Linked DNA regions of Homo sapiens: region 1 is linked to region 2. A link means that fine-mapping ties the variant in region 2 to the expression of a gene that starts in the linked region. Tissue or cell type: whole blood. Region 2 holds a variant in brackets; the other region holds the start of a gene. All regions are shown on one strand. Distances are from middle to middle.

Region 1 (8,139 bases), 37 kb before region 2:
CTCAGCTTACTGCAACCTCTGCCTCCTGGATTCAAGCGAGTCTCATGCCTCAGCCTCCAGCGTAGCTGGGATTACAGGCACACGCCACCACACCAGGATAATTTTTTGTATTTTTAGTAGAGACGGGGTTTCACCATGTTGGCCAGGCTGGTCTCAAACTCCTCACCTCAAATGATCCGCCTGCCTTGGCCTCCCAAAGTGCTGGGATTACAGGTGTGACAACACTCAGCCTAGCTTATGTTATTTTAATGTAAATTCTTGGTAAACAACTTGGGACCTGCCTCTTCTCCCCAGAGTCCTGGATAACCCTCTCTGCCCTGTCTCCTTCCCACCTACCGCCCTGAAGGCTGCTTCCGCCTCTGCCCAGACTGCAGATGCTCCCAGGCTGTGTCCTCTGCCCGCCTCTTCTCTCCAGCCCTCTCTCATGGCAGTCCCACCTGACAACTCCCATGGCCTCCTGGGTGTCCTGCAAAGGCTTTGTCACTGGTGTCACTCCTCCAGGCCTCAGATAATTCCAGATACACAAGCGCTCTCCCAACAAGCCATATTCTCACCTCTGCAAAGCATTTCCAAGCATCTCCGTTTCCTCTGCATAAGCGACACGGCCCAGCCACCCGAGCCCTCGTTGCCATCCACCACTGGGCATCAGCTTCCACTCCCGTCTTTCTCGTGTCCTCTGGTCCAGCCCCTGGTGAGCTCCAGCCAAGCACCGCCTACTGGGCCTCTGGTCTTTACCTGTTCTGTTCCCTCTGCCTGGAGTTTTTTTAAGTAGAAAAATGCGAGAATGTGGAGTGGGAATGTAAAATGGTGTGGCTGCTGCAGAAAACACTTTGGTGGTTCCTGAAAAAGTTTAGGCATACACTTAGCATGGGACTCAGCATTTACCCCTTAAGCACACGCCCCATGGAAACAAAACCTGTTCCCTCGGAAACGCGCACACAGACGCTCGTAGCTACGTCCTTCGTAACAGCTGGAAGGCGGATGTTGGGAACAGGCCCCCCAAAATCTGGCCATAAACTGGCCCCAAAACTGGCCATAAACAAAATCTCTGCAGCACTGTAACATGCTCATGATGGTCATGACGCCCACGCTGGAAGGTTGTGGGTTTACCGGAATGAGGGCAAGGAACGCCTGGCCCATTCAGGGCGGAAAACCGCTTAAAGACATTCTTAATCCACAAACAATAGCGTGAGCGATCTGTGCCTTAAGGGCATGCTCCTCCTGCAGGTAACCAGCCAAACCCATCCCTTTATTTCCAGCCCATCCCTTTATTTCCCATAAAGAATGCCTTTAAATCTATAATCTATAAAAACAATGCTTATCACTGGCTTGCTGTCAATAAATATGTGGGTAAATCTCTGTTCAAGGCTCTCAGCTCTGAAGGCTGTCAGCCCCGATTTCCCACTCCACACCTCTGTATTTCTGTGTGTGTGTGTGTCTTTAATTCCTCTAGCGCCGCTGGGTTAGGGTCTCCCTGACCGAGCTGGTCTCGGCAGGCGGAGACGACCGGGTGTCCACCACAGGTGAAGGGATTAACAAATGGTGCCCGGTCCCTGGGGTGGGATATTATGCATCTGTGAACAGAAGTGAGACACTGATACACTGAGGGGACTCAGGGGCCACCACTGGGATGAGGCTTGGAAATGTGGCTTCCACCGAAAGAAGTGAGACACAAACGTTCGCACACCGCGTGATTCCTTTTATATGAAATATCCAAAACGGACAAATCCATAGAGACAGAAAGCAGATCTGTGGTTTCCAGAGGATGGGGAAGGAATGAGGAGTGATTACTTAATGGGGATGAGCTGTTGTTCTGGAGGGATGAAATGTTCTGAAACTGGAGAAGCAGAGGTTGCACAACGTCGTGAATCCAGCAAATGCCGCCGAAGTATATGCTTCAAGATGGCTGTTAAGTGAATTTCACTCCATAAAAGGTGTGTTTTAGAGGGTTATGCCCATGAGCGAGCCTACCTATACATGTGCAGTGTCACATTACTGAGACGATTCTGTTTAGAGCAAAGCCACCTACCTCCCACGTCCCTTTCCAGCCTGTCTTCTTAGCCACCTGCCTCCCACATCCTTCTCCAGCTTTGTCTCCTTGCATGCAGCCCTCTCAGGGCTTTTGAGGCCTGGAGGCCAAGGGTGCTGGGAGGTCCCACTTTGTACCCTCTCCCGAGAGCTTTGAGGGGTACCTGCCGCCTCTAGCTGTGCCTTCTCTGTGCCCTTCAACTCTGGAGTGAGGTCAGATCTTGGCTCTGGGGCCACCACCAGCTGTTTCAGGCTTGCAAAGTTCTGTCCGACAAAATACAGCTCCGCTTCCCTGTGGGGGGAAGCATTGGCCCCAACAGGCCTTCTTCACCAACGGGGACAGCAGTCCCTTGAGTGGAGCCCTGGACTCAGGGAGCTCTGGTCAGTGAAACTCTCAGCTAGGGGCTAAGGGTATGGGGACCTTCATATGTGGGACAGGCTCCTCGCTGGGGACGCTGCCACCAGGCCTGTGAGGCAGCCAGCCAAGTTCCACTTGCTGCAGCTGGGGCTGCTCTGGACGGCCAATCCAGACACCTCCCCCCTCTCCACCCTCTTTCCATCCTCAGGTTTGCATTTCTTAGGTCTGGCACTTCAACTGCAAAGTACAAGTCCTGGGCTATCTCCTCCTGCTCTGCTGAAGGCCACATCGATGCTTGGAAGGTAGGGTCAGCCCAGTCCCTTGCTCCACACACCCAACTACACTGATGGAGCGACCGTCTACACAGGGATCCTACGGTGGGGAGTGAGCCTTGCTGGCCTGATGCATGGCAGTGGTTCCTGCTCCAATAAGACCAAGAATAATTAATAACTGTGACTAAGTTAGAAGCTTTGGCTGCATCTGAATTCACCAGCGTTTCCAGCTCCTGAGGCCATGTGCGGTGTCACCTCACTCCTGGCAGACAGACTCCCACTCGGAGGATGATTTTTCATAGCCAGGGTCGCTCTGTGGACCTTGGATGGACCAACGTGCTTTCCATGTCCAACTTTGTCAAGATCCGGGGAAGATTCTCCAGCAAGTCTCTTGGAAACATGTGCATGTGGCCCCAGGCGACGTGAGGGGTGCAGTCTGCCTGCGTTATGCAATGCTCAGGCCAGTTTTCCCTGAGAGAGGAATGCTGCCGATCCTCTGCGGTAACCCACAAAACTCCACGGAGATGCTTGGAAGGAAAAGCATCGCGTCCTCCAGATGTTTTGAAATGTTCAAGTATTTAAAAGGGAAATGGAATTTCTGTTTATCCTTTTAAGTGACAATTATTCATTGCGTCTTCCTGGCCACAGCTCATTCAGCACTACTGCAGATCCGGCCAGACCCCCAGGAGCCGCGGCCCCTGCACAGCCAAGGCCAAGAAGCTCCCATCGTGGAGGGGGGCGCATTCCGGACCTGTGAGGCCCGGGGTTCGTTTTTATGCCTCCTTAAAGGGATGAGCCAGAGAAGAAAGTCTTCGCAAAGCCTTTGCCCCAGGAGGGGCGGGGCTGCGCAGGGCGCCTGTGGAGGCCGTGGCCGGGCAGGTGGGGAGGCTCACACACAGGCCAGAGGCTTCCCTGGAAACTGACGCCCTAGGGCAGGTCCAGCTCCTGGATGGTCGCAGGTGAAGAAACGCCAGGCCCAAGGGTCCTGGGAGAGAGAGGGGAACAGCGCCCAGGAAGAGGTGCAGGTTCCCAGGGACTGCAAGGGCCGCCGCCACCCTCCCACACCCCACCCTCGCTGCATCACCAGTCAGCCCAGGGCAGGCTGCTGACCCTCCCTTGGCCTCAGTTTCCTCATCTGTAAAATGGAAAAAGAAGCATGTCCACCTCACCAGTGGTCACAGTCACAGGTGCTGACATGGAGAAGGATTGATGCGTCCTCCTGAGTGCTGCCTTGTCATGCTATAAACCAGGAGGCCTGGCTCTCTGCCTCCCGGGAAGGTCTGTTTCTAATCCTGTGCTGGGTCTGCGTGGCTCCATGGCCTCAGAGGCTGACACCGAGTGTGGTGTCCCTGGGTCACCGTGCTCCTTGGTTTGGTCCAGCAGGAGAAAGGGCAGCCTGCCAAGGAGAAGGCTGTGAGCTTGGCAGGGGAGAACTTAGGCGCTGTGCCTTTGGGAGGCTGGGATTTAGATCACAGCTGGGAAGCTAAGTCCTGACTGCACTGGCCGGAACCAATGGGCTCCAGTAGCCGGATGCTCTGCCAAGTCAGGAGGTAATAACCGCCACGGCCTGGGAGAGAAGCTGGCACAGCCGTGGGCCCCTGCCCTGCGGTCTGGCCTCGCAGGTCCCCAGGCCGTGTACAGACACTGTGCGGCAGGGAAGCAGAGGCAGCCATGGGGAGCAACCCTGTTTCTCAGTGCTACATGCCTACTCTCCCTGAGCTGATGTCTGGAAGACAGTAAAGGAGACCTGAGGCAGTGCTGCCCCTCCTTCCGTCTGCCACCTCCTCAGGGCTGGCCCAGGCCCTGCAGAGCAGGTGGTGGTGGCTGCTGGTGGTAAAGCCCGTCCATCCAGAGCCTCGCTCTGCTCCCAAACCACCCACCTCCCGCTGCACATGTGGCAGCTTCAGGAGCCTGGCGGGGCTAAGAGGAGATGACAGACCCCAGCAAGGACAGGCTCAGCTTCTTGGGGACCGAGTCATTGCCTGTTGCTTCTCCTGGGGGCCTCGACTGTCCGAGTGTGTTCAGGCACACGGTGCCCTGTCTGTTTCCCAGGCACTTGGGCCAAGGCTGGACAGGGAGGTGCCATGTGGGACGAAAGCCCAGGCTGTGCAGTGCTGGTCACCGGGAGTGACCATGGGTGAAGTCGCGCTGTGAGTGACTGCCTGTTATCACTGACCACGCAGGGCCATCCTGGGTGACCCGCTGTGCCACAAGCAACTGGTTCACATTGGAGCCCCCCTCTGGAGCCCTGGGCAACCCGCTGCCAGTGGGCCTTTCTCCTGAGGCCCCTGGAGTCCCGGAGCATCCCGTGAGTTCATCTGCCATACCTGTGATTGCCATGTGGGCCCAGCGCCCTCCAATGGAAAAGCTGCATTCAGTTCTGCCCGAGGATCCCAGGCCTACGACACTGTCCTCAGGCTGCCAGGGAGCAGGAGGCTGTGGGGATCTGCGTTCTTGCCAGGCCTGGGAGCAGCAGCCAAAAAGTGGACTTACGTGGACAAAATGTTGGGCCAGGGAGGAGCCCTCGGCTCTGGACGGATGTCTCTGGTGCTTTTATGCCACGTGCATTTCTGCAGATTTGATGCCCGGCAGCCAGCACTGGGCTGTGGCCATGGTGGTGAGGCAGCCTTGGGTCTGCACGAGGCTCGGAGGCCTCCAGGAACCTCCCAGGAATGTGACTGTGCCTGGAGAGAAGCGCCATCTGCACGGCGCAGTCCAGATGCTTCTCTCCTACAAGCCCATCATCAAACACACAGCTGCCCAGACTTCAGCAGGATTTGTGCACAAGAAACGCAAAGGCACAGTCCATCGGGTGAGGCAGAGGTGGAAGGAGCACCGGGGTGGGAGTGGAGGAGCACCGAGGTGGGGGCGCAGGAGCACCGAGGCGGGGGCGCAGGAGCACCGAGGCGGGGGCGCAGGAGCACCGAGGCGGGGGCGCGGGAGCACTGAGGCTGAGCTGTCTCTAGTGATCTCTCAAGCCTCAGTGCAGTGGCCACAGGGCAAGGTGCCTCCTGGTGTGTCCTCGCCTCCAAATCAGGCTGCTCCACTTCCCAGGTCAGAGTCCTGGGGGGTTGTGTTGACCCTGAGCCCCCACGAGCATCCAATCCAGCAGAGCTGGAAGGACCCAAGAACCTGCATTCCTCATGGCTCCCATCATGCTTCCGGTCCAGGAGCCACCATCCAGACCACACTCCCATTCATCCCCTGGCCACGGAAGCTGAAGCCTTGGTTTCCCCACCTGTAAAGTGGGAGTATCAACATCACCCACATCAAAGGGCCTGGATTAGATGCGGTGATGCCCGTGGACTTTAGCAGCCCCGGTCCTCCAGGGGCCCTCCCAGGGAGCTGAGGCCCGGGTGGTCCTGGCGGCCGCTCCTTCTCCAGGCCGAAGACAGGAAGGTCTCTTGGGCTGACCTCAGGCAAGAGGCGGGGTGGGTCACGGCCTCCAGGGCCAGGCTGGGGCCTCCACAGAAAGCCCGTGGGTGGCGAGAGGGAGCCGGCTGGGGTGACTGAGGGTCGCTGGGTAGATGAGGGAGGGACCCGGGGTTCTTGTGTTCACGTGTGTATTTGCCCCGTGTTTCTGCTGACATGCCACGTGTGCAACAAACAGGCTTGGCGAGCCATCCCCACCACCCAGGCCGAGACGCCAGACGTGACTGGCACCCCAGGGTTCCCTCCCGGCCCCCAGAGGTAACCCCAATGCTGGTTTACCACAGATGACTCATTCTGCCTGTTTTAGGGTTTTGAGTAAATGAAACCCAACAGCGTGCAGTCTTTTTGCCTGGCTTCCCTTTAACCACGTCTGAGAGGCTCACTTTGCGGTTGCTTCTGTGGCTCCTGGACAGTTTCCCTTGTGCGGACACAACTCAGTGAGAGCACCCCTTCTTCCATTTGTAGACTTTCCAAATAGTCCAGGCGAGAGAGGCTCAGGTCTTGAGTTCAGGGAGGGGCAATGCACAAGCAGACGCCAAGTGGAAGGGAGTACACCCCTCCCTTGGCGGGGAGGCCCTCGGGCTGGTGGGGATGAGCGCCCCTCAGACGGCACCTGCGGGTGACAGGGTGTGACATTCTGCTGTTTCTCGGAAGTAACTCGCAAGCAGCATGGGGGTTCCTAGTGTGTTTCACAGACTCTCACCAAATGTTAGGGTTCACTCCTTGTCCTACAGCTTAAATACACCAAAAGTGAGAAAATTACGAGATAACATTTCCCTCAGAGACCCATATTCTGTGTTAAAGAATTCTTCCTTCTACCTAAATCCATCTCTTTACGGTCAGATGTCATTGGTTGTGGTATTTTGTCCATTTTCAGCTTTGTTTAGATTTTTTTGACATGCAATTAAATGCCCATATTTAAGACGTACGGTTTGATAAGTTTTGACATTCTGCTGCACCCACAGAGCCATGACCACAATCGAGACCATGGACATCCCCTCCCCCAGGCTGGCCCCTGCCCCGTCCCTCCACCCTCCTGCTCCTCTGATGACACTGACCTTTCTGTCACTGTAGATTAATTCATTTCTGTCCTGGGTAACACAGCGTGTATACTCTTATTGCCTGACATTGTCTCACAGTGTAATTATTTTGAGATTCATCCAACAATTCATCCTTTCAATGCTGGGGAGCACTAGTTGCATGGGTGTATCATAATTGGTTCATCCACTGACCCGTGGAGGACGTTCAGGTTGTTTTGGATTTTGGTGATTACAGGCAAGGTTGTTGTGAACGTTTACGACACAGTCTTTCTGTGGACGTTCCCAGAACAGACATGTCTGGGTCACATGGTGACTCTGTGTAGCTTTTTAAGAAATGGCCGAACCGTTCCCTGTGGTTCTTGTGTTATGATCCTGCCAACATGCTGCGCGCTCCAGTTGCCCCACATCCTCGCCAGCCCTTGGCAGGGCCACTTTTGAACATGTTAGCCATGCTGGTGGGTTTGTAGGCACCTCTCATACTGGTCTTCGTTTGCACTTCCCTAAGGACTAAATGGTTGTCAGCATCGTCTTGCGTGCTTCTGTCTGTTAATATAGCTTCTTTGGTGAAATATCCATTCAAATATTTTGCCTACTTTTTAATTGAATTGTTTTGTCTCATTATTGTGTTGAAAGGCTTCTTGACATGTTTTAGAAAGAAGTCCTTTTTGAACATGGTTTGCAAATAATTTCTCCAGCTTGGCAGCTTGCCTCTTTATAGTGTCTCTTAAAGGGCAAAAGTTTTAAATTAATAAAATTTAGCTTATTGGTTTTTTCATGTAGTTTGAACTTTTTGTGTTCTATTTAAAAAACCTTTCCCAAACTAAAAGTCACCATGATTTTATCTTATCTTCTTCTTACAAGTTTTACTGTTTTAGTTCACACATTTAGATTTATGACCTATTACAATTTTTTTTTTTGAGATGGAGTCTCGCTCTGTCAGCCACACTGGAGTGCAGTGGCGTGGTCTTGGCTCTCTGTAACCTCCACTTCCCAGGTTCAATCAATTTTC
Region 2 (8,000 bases):
TCCAAAACTGCTTTTTGTGGAAAGGACTGTAATAAATATGGGTACAAAAAGGTGGGAAATATTAAGAGCACAATTAATGACATAATATACAAAAGTGGTTCCAGTTTTGTTCACTGGTTATCCATTTTTTTTCCAATCTGTAGTTACTGTGATGCTGTGAAGTGTGCAGTGCTCTGTGTGCTCTGTGTGATCTGTGGCTACTCTGGAACTATGAAGTGTGCAGAGCTGTGCGTGATCTGTGGCCCCTCTGATGCTATAAAGTGTGCAGTGCTCTCCATGATCTGTGGCTACTCTGGAACTATGAACTGTGCAGAGCTATGTGTGATCTGTGGCTACTCTGGAACTATGAAGTGTGCAGAGCTCTGCGTGATCTGTGGCCCCTCTGATGCTATGAAGTGTGCAGTGCTCTGCGTGATCTGTGGTTTCCCTGTAACAGTCCTGGGGATGTATTGTGTTGGGCAGGTACAGGAAAAGGCAACACTAGGAAAAAGAAAATCCAGATCATGCTAATTAAAAAAGAGATGGAGGCTGGGTGCGGTGGCTCACGCCTGTAATCCCAGCACATCGGGAGGCTGAGGCAGGTGGATCCTGAGGTCAGGAGATCGAGACCATCCTGGCTAACACGGCGAAACCCTGGCTCTACTAAAAATACAAAAAAAATCTAGCTGGGCGTGGTGGTGGGCGCCTGTAGTCCCAGCTACTCAGGAGGCTGAGGCAGGAGAATGGCGTGAACCTGGGGGGCGGAGCTTGCAGTGAGCCGAGATGGTGCCACTGCACTCCAGCCTGGGCAACAGAGTGAGACTGTGTCTCAAAAACAAAAAAAGAGATGGAGCCTGCCAAAGCATTTTCCAATGAACACGCAAGTGTGCACGTGAGCTGATGCCCATTCATTACAGCCACGGCTGAGGACTCTCGGCCTTCCTGGGCGGGAACCTCCCGGTATTGGGAAATCAGCATTGGGTCTTGTAAATGCAACTGGATGGTGATCCAAAGGGGGAATTTGTGAGATGAGGTAGCAAACCTAAGAAGCCACGTCAGCTCGTTTCTGCTGGCAGCTCTCCCCACTGCACGCCACCAGCAGCCCCACTGGGCAGGTTTTCTGGGATAGCTGAGTCAAGGGGGATGGAGGCTGAGACCAGGAGATTTCGACCCAGGATTGTCCAGCTTGGGGCAGAAAACAGCCATCGAGCTGTGTGCCGAGTGCCAAATCCATCATCAGGAAACGATGAGAAAAATAGAGCTGTACTTGGAAAATACCTGCCCATTTTAAGCCCAGACTCAGGAGTCAAAACAACCCCAATGTCCTAGTGAAAGCTGGTGTGACCTGGTTACGGTAGGAGTCAAAAGAGGCAGAGACTCTGCTGAGTTGGGGCAGAGTGCAATGTTCTCGAGGACTTTCTCTCTCCCTGGAGACATAAAAATCTGAGAGCAGGTAGCGCAGGTAGGGCTGTCATCATCACAGCAGCAATCCGTCAGCAAAGCCAGACCAGTCGGGGGCCGAGGGCTGCAGCTCTCAAAGCTGGCCCTGGGCAAGGATGCCGCTTGGCAGGTACAGCTGCAGCCCCTGTCCTCAGCCTCCCCGCTATCCTCAGCCTCAGCCCGTCCTCAGCCTTGCCCCTGTCCTCAGCCTCGGCCCCTGTCCTCAGCCTCGCCCCTGTCCTCAGCCTCGGCCCTGTCCTCAGCCTCGGCCCCTGTCCTCAGCTTCACCCCTGTCCTCAGCCTCGGTCCCTGTCCTCAGCCCTCGCCCCGTCCTCAGCCTCGGCCCGTCCTCAGCCTCTCCCGTCCTCAGCCTCGCCCCTGTCCTCAGCCTCGCCCCTGTCCTCAGCCTCGGCCCTGTCCTCAGCCTCGGCCCCTGTCCTCAGCTTCACCCCTGTCCTCAGCCTCAGCCCGTCCTCAGCCTCGGCCCCTGTCCTCAGCCTCGCCCCTGTCCTCAGCCTCACCCCTGTCCTCAGCCCTCGCTCCAGTCCTCAGCCTCGCCCCTGTCCTCAGCCTCGGCCCCTGTCCTCAGCCGCAGTCCTTGTCCTCAGCCACAGCCCCCTCTCCTCAGCCTCGCCCGTCCTCAGCCTTGCCCCTGTCCTCAGCCACGGCCCCTGTCCTCAGCCTCAGCTGCAGCCACTGTCCTCAGTGTCGAAAGTCAGGTGCTCCCATGTGCTTTTAAGAGGTGGAAGCTGGGGTGATTTTTAAACATTTCTCTCTGTTGTGCTATTCCACATAATTCCCGTTATTGTAAATGACTGGTTAAAATGTTAATGTAACTGTTGTTTGTTTGTTTGAGATGGAGTTTCGCTCTTGTCACCCAGGCTGGAGTGCAGTGGTGCTATCTCGGTTCACCGCAACCTCCGCCTCCTGGGTTCAAGCGATTCTCCTGCCTCGGCCTCCCTAGTAGCTGGAACTACAGGCACCTGTCACCACGCCCAGCTAATTTTTTGTATTTTGGTAAACACAGGGTTTCACCATGTTGGCCAGGATGGTCTCGATCTCCTGACCTCATGATCTGCCCACCTCAACCTCCCAAAGTGCTGGGATTACAGGCTGAAAGAAGGTTTAGTATCATGTGACTGTTTTATAAAGCCGATAGAACAATTCATCCTTTAAAAAAATCTGTAAGAAATCAAAATACTGATAAACTGTTAATTCTGAGTGGTAGGCATTTGGACAATTGCTTTTTGTATTTTTGTGTGTTGCTTAAAATAAAACACTATAGATCCATGGGCCCCCTTCAATGGGCCAGTGTCTTCTCTCCCCACACCCATCTTCAGGGCCTCGGGCCTCGGGGAGTCTTGGGGCTTCCCTGGACCTACACAGCATCCAGCCTGGGGACACGGATCATCTCTTCGGAGGCTGCCTAGCCCCGGCCCCAGGGCCCGAGGCTTGTTGTGAGAGAAGCCTGCTTGGCTGTGACACCAGCCGTGTATGCACGGCTTCCCACTACCTGCAGGACCCAAGTCTGCAGCTAAAACCTAAACAGGAGAAGTCAGTACCATGCACTTATCACCTCTCCCCCCTCCTTCCTCCCTACTCTCCCTCCTCTTCCCCCTTCTCATCAGGTCCTTTTCCTGGCTGGTGGGTAGGAGACACGGCCTGGTTATGGGGTGAGGTGGGGCATCGTGAAGCTCGTCCCTGAGCCCTTCGAAGGTCCGATGTCCTGTTCCCTGCCCTCAGTCCCTCAGGCTCGGCAGGTGCTGAGCCTCGGCAGTGCCCAGGGAGAAGGGGGGACCGCCTGGGCTCGGCTCTGCCCACCACACACAAGGCATGGTGGGCACACCAGAGACCGTGGTGGGGGGAAAGTCCTCCTACCCCCACCTAGTGTGAGCCCACAAGCATCACTCACTCGTCTTCTGACAGATCTTCCACATCCATCTGGGACGGCTTCTCTTCCTTCTTGGCATCGGTGACCACCTGTGGGGAGTGGAGACATTTAAGGGATGGGAGGTGTCAGCCACGGGCACTGAGGCATAGCCTGTGGACCTGCTGGAGGATCAGGCTAGGGCACAGAGGCTGGATGACCTCCCATCAGACAGGGCTCTCTATTGACTGGACATTTCCAGTTAGGGGAACCTGACCAAGGAACTGCACCCTTGATGAGGCCTGGCTCCTGGACTGAAGACCAGGTCTGGCCTGTCAGCCCAACTGTGCCACTGACTGGCCCTCCTTGAGTCCTTAGAACTCATGTGCCCCAAGAATAGCCTTGTTGGGGGTTAACAACCAGCTCTCTCTGTGGCTCTGAGGGCAAAAGGGAGAGAAGGTACAGTCTGGAAAATAACTGACCCCCAGGAAGGAGCTTAAACTTGCCAAGAAAGAACTTCAATAAACTTCCAGAATGATGACTGTTCACTACAGCAAAGACATGGAGGAACACACCCCAGATGTTAGTGTTGGAAGTGCCCAGACAGGTCATTAAGTCAGCCTCTTCTTCTTACAGATAAGGATGATGATTATGGTGGTGATAATGTTGATGGTGATGACGATGGTGATGATGATGATTATAATGGTGGTGATGATGACGGTGACTATACTGGTGATGGTGGTGATGATGACAGTGATGATGATTGTGACAATGATGATGGTGATTATAATGGTGATGGTGATGATGATGGTGACAATGGTGATGGTGATTATAATGGTGGTGATGATGGTGAAGGTGATGATGGTGATGATGGTGATGGTGATGATGGTGATGGTGATGATGGTAATTATAATGGTGGTGATGATGGTGAAGGTGATGATGGTGATAATGGTGATGGTGATGATGGTGATGGTGGTGATGATGGTGATGGTGATGATGGTGGTAATGGTGATGGTGATGATGGCGATGGTGATGGTGACAATGATGATGATTATGATGGTGATGATGATGGTGATGGTGATTATAATGTTGGTGATGATGGTGACAGTGATAGTGGTGATGATGATGATGGTGGTGATGATGGTCATGATAGTGATGGTGATGATGATGCTGGTGATGGGAATGATGGTGGTGATGTGATGATGGTATTAATGATGGTGATGATGATGATGGTGATGATGGTGATTATAATGGTGATGATGACAATGGTGACGGTGATAGTGGTGATGGTGATGATGATGATGGTGATGATGGTCATGATGATGGTGATTATAATGGTGGTGATGATGGGGATAGCGATAGTGGTGATGGTGATGATGATGGTGACAGTGATGGTGGTGATGATGGTCATGATAGTGATGGTGATGATGATGCTGGTGATGGGAATGATGGTGGTGATGTGATAATGACGGTGATGATATTAATGATGGTGATGATGATGATGGTGATGGTATTAATGATG[GTGA/G]TGATGATGATGATGTGATAATGATGGTGATGGTATTAATGGTGATGATGACGGTGGTGATGATTATAATGGTGATGATGATGGTGATGGTGATTATAATGGTGGTGATGATGGTGAAGGTGATGATGGTAATAATGGTGATGGTAATAGTGACGATGATGGTGATAGTGATAGTGGTGATGGTGATGATGATGGTGACAGTGATGATGGTCATGATAGTGATGATGATGATGATGCTGCTGATGGGAATGATGGTGGTGATGTGATAATGATGGTGATATTAATGATGATGGTGATAATGTTTATGGGGATGATGTTGCTGGTGGTGATGATGATGATGGTTGTGATATAATGATGGTGTTGATGCTGAGGATAGTAATGGTGGTGATGATGATGATGATACCCCATGATGATGATGATAAGCTTTCCTGGGTGTGAGGCACTGCTCTGAGAGCTTTCCCAGACAACCCTGGAATGCGGGTACTAATATGATTCCTACTTTATAGAGGAGACAACTGAGGCACAGGGAAGTATGATGAGTTGTTTTGAGCATTTACTGACAGAACCACACATCCACCAAAGCCCAGTCTCTGAGCTTCCAGGCCTGTGCCCTTTTCACCATCCCAACGTGATCCCCCACAAGAGGTTCTGAGGACCCATGGGCACCTTGAAGGTTAACCCAGGCCCCAGAGTCTCTGATAGTGCTGAAGTGTGCGTGAGTTGGAGTGTGGGAGGGTAAGGAAGAGGCTAGACCAATCCTCAACACCAGGGAGCTCTCCTGGAGCTGCTGGCCCCAGGTCTCTGCCTCCCTATCCAACACATGGCTATTGTGGGGTAAGTTCCCAGAAAAGCCTCCCAGGCTGGCCCTGCCAGGCAGCACAGGCGCTTTCCTGGTGGCTTTGGCTCTGCTTGTCTTGCGGTTTTCCATTTTTACCTCCTCAGCATGGTCTCCCAGATCAATCTCCACAAACACAGATGCTTTCTGCGAATGGAAACCACAGAGGTGTGGATGGCAGGCTTGGGTGAGCTGGAGAGGAACGTTGATTCCCTGGGAGGAACAGTGGCCCCTGGCCCTTGGGGCAGCCGGGGCAGACCCTGGTGATGACCATCAGGTCCCCAGATCCTGGCAATGCTGAACGAGGGCTCCTGGGACGCTGGGCAGAGCTGACGGCAGTATGGACTGTGAGGTGCCCATGTAGGAGAAGGATGTAGGAGGGATATGGCTTTCTCACCCCTCCCTACTCACCTCCCATCAGGGCCCTGAGACCCCAGAGGGTCTCCTCCAACCTCATCCTCTGAGAACTCGGGCCTCCAGGAGATGGGGCAATGCCCAGATCTTGGGGAGCCGGGCTGCTCCCACCCCAGCCCTGCTCGACAAGGCAGCACTCCTGCCCCACAGCCTGCCTGTGGGCCACACTCCACACCAAGGAGCAGGAGACCCCCCCCGGGATGTGAACGGCTTCAGCGGCTCAGGGTTTTGCTGTCCCAAGGCCTCCAACGGGGCACCTGGGCCAGCCCAGAACGTGTGTCTGATGGGAGCATTTGAGTCAACTCCAAGGGCAGTGTCTGGGGGTGGGTGAAGGACTTCCCAAGAGCCCTGGAATGAAAGCAAGGCCCGCCTGGCAAGCAGCGTGTCTGGTTGTGTTACCGTCCCCACCACACAGCTTGGAGGGAGAACAAAAGCCACTTTCCTTCACACGGTGCCACGTGAGAACCCCCACAGCATGACGTGTCCCTGGACAACACATCAAGCCTGGGGCTCTGGGTGTTTTCTGGGCCAAGGTCAAGCTGAGGGCACCTCCTCTCAGGGCCTCATACACCTTTAGTGACTGCACGTTTGGCAAGCAGGGGTCAGGCTGCCCTGGGATCGGGTAAAGAGTCTCAGAGCTTGGCCCCAAGCCTCTCTAGGGTAGCAGGGGCCCAGTCAGTCCAGCTTCACAGCCTGGCGCCTGCTGAGCTGACCCCCAGGCCACCGTCCCGGGCAGGTCCAGGCTCCGGCAGAACTCCCGCCTGGACAGGCCTCCCTTCTCACTTCTATTACTAAAGGGAAAAGCTCTTACCTCTTCTTCCTGAAGGTCATTTAGCTTTATGGACTCTGCCTCCTGTTCCTGTAAGACCAAAGAGGTTAAGTGAAGGCCGGGCTCCAAGGCAAGAGGAAAAAATGCACCGCTCCTCAGCGTGGCCCAACCTTGGCCTCCTGCAAGCCTCCGTCTGCGTGCTCGCCTTCCTGCACCTCCTGCATGCTGGCCTCCAAGTCGCTCTTCTCCCTCTCTGGGTCTTGTTTTCCACTCTCATGACCCAGCTTCCCAAGGGTGCTGAAGCTTTCCTTCTTGTCTTGTGCTAGGTTTTTCTGACTGCGGGAGGAGCAGGGAAAGTGGTTTGGAAGAGACGGCAGATAGCTGCGGGCAGCTCCTGGTCTCCTCTGGGTCTGTCTCCTTGGGCTTGAGGCTGGTGCCCCTGGGGTCTGGTGGGCACCTATGAGGTGCCCTGACCCAGCACAGAGTTCTGGCTCTGAAGGGCCCCACAGCCTGGCCCTCCTGGCTCCCTCTGCTGGCCCATCTTGCCTGGAAAACTTACCCTGTACAGCCAGGGTCTGGACTGGGATTACAGCCAACCTGGGCTTATTTTGGAAAGCAGGGTCTAACCTTGCTCAAAGAACCAAAATCTGATGAGAAGATGCAGCCACCCTGTCGCAGATCCACACTCCATGTGGATACCAAATGGGCCATGCTGGCCAGTAGGCTGGAGGGTCCACGGTTGGCCCTGCTGTTACTCGCACCAACCTCGTGACCCCTTCTGTGGTCTGCTATGGTGTGTGGCCAGGGGCAAGAGGAATGCAACAGGCAGTGAGGATGACAGGGGCTCCGCCACCATCTGCAATGGCGTTGACTTGGCCGAGGGTATTGACTGACTTGGCCAACGTGAGCAGACGCTTTCAGCTTTGCCACCCTAAAGGTGTGTGGTCTTCCCAGCTCAACTGCCCTCACCAAGGCCATCAGCTTCCCTGAGCTCTACGGAGTGGGAGGCTCCAGGCGCCGCACACATCCTGTCTAACACACGAACACTCACTCTCACCAACTGATTGCACCTTTGGCCGCTTCGGCGGCCGGACACCTTCCTTGGTCTCCACTCAACGGGAGCCATTTGTAAATAAGGGGGACTTGGCCCGTGCCTTGCCATGGTGCTGGT

The links. PIP is the estimated chance that this variant, and not a neighbour inherited with it, causes the effect.
Region 1: it holds the start of SWINGN, and the variant in region 2 is fine-mapped to the expression of SWINGN in whole blood (TOPMed, PIP above 0.99).

Annotation. Positions count from the first base shown.
Region 1 is chr13:113,924,836-113,932,974 of GRCh38, forward strand. It overlaps SWINGN (SWI/SNF complex interacting GAS6 enhancer non-coding RNA), which reads right to left and starts at 4,156. Exons shown (of 1, transcript NR_047495.1): 1 at 1,679-4,156. It also overlaps a transcript of C13orf46 not described here. RefSeq lists an enhancer at 6,102-6,171.
Region 2 is chr13:113,961,596-113,969,595 of GRCh38, forward strand. It overlaps C13orf46 (chromosome 13 open reading frame 46), which reads right to left. Exons shown (of 7, transcript NM_001365455.2): 3 at 7,000-7,165; 4 at 6,872-6,919; 5 at 5,746-5,793; 6 at 3,332-3,399. Among named protein-coding and RNA genes, the nearest start is that of C13orf46, 8.5 kb to the right of the region's middle. The variant GTGA/G (reference allele first, on the strand shown) is at 4,809.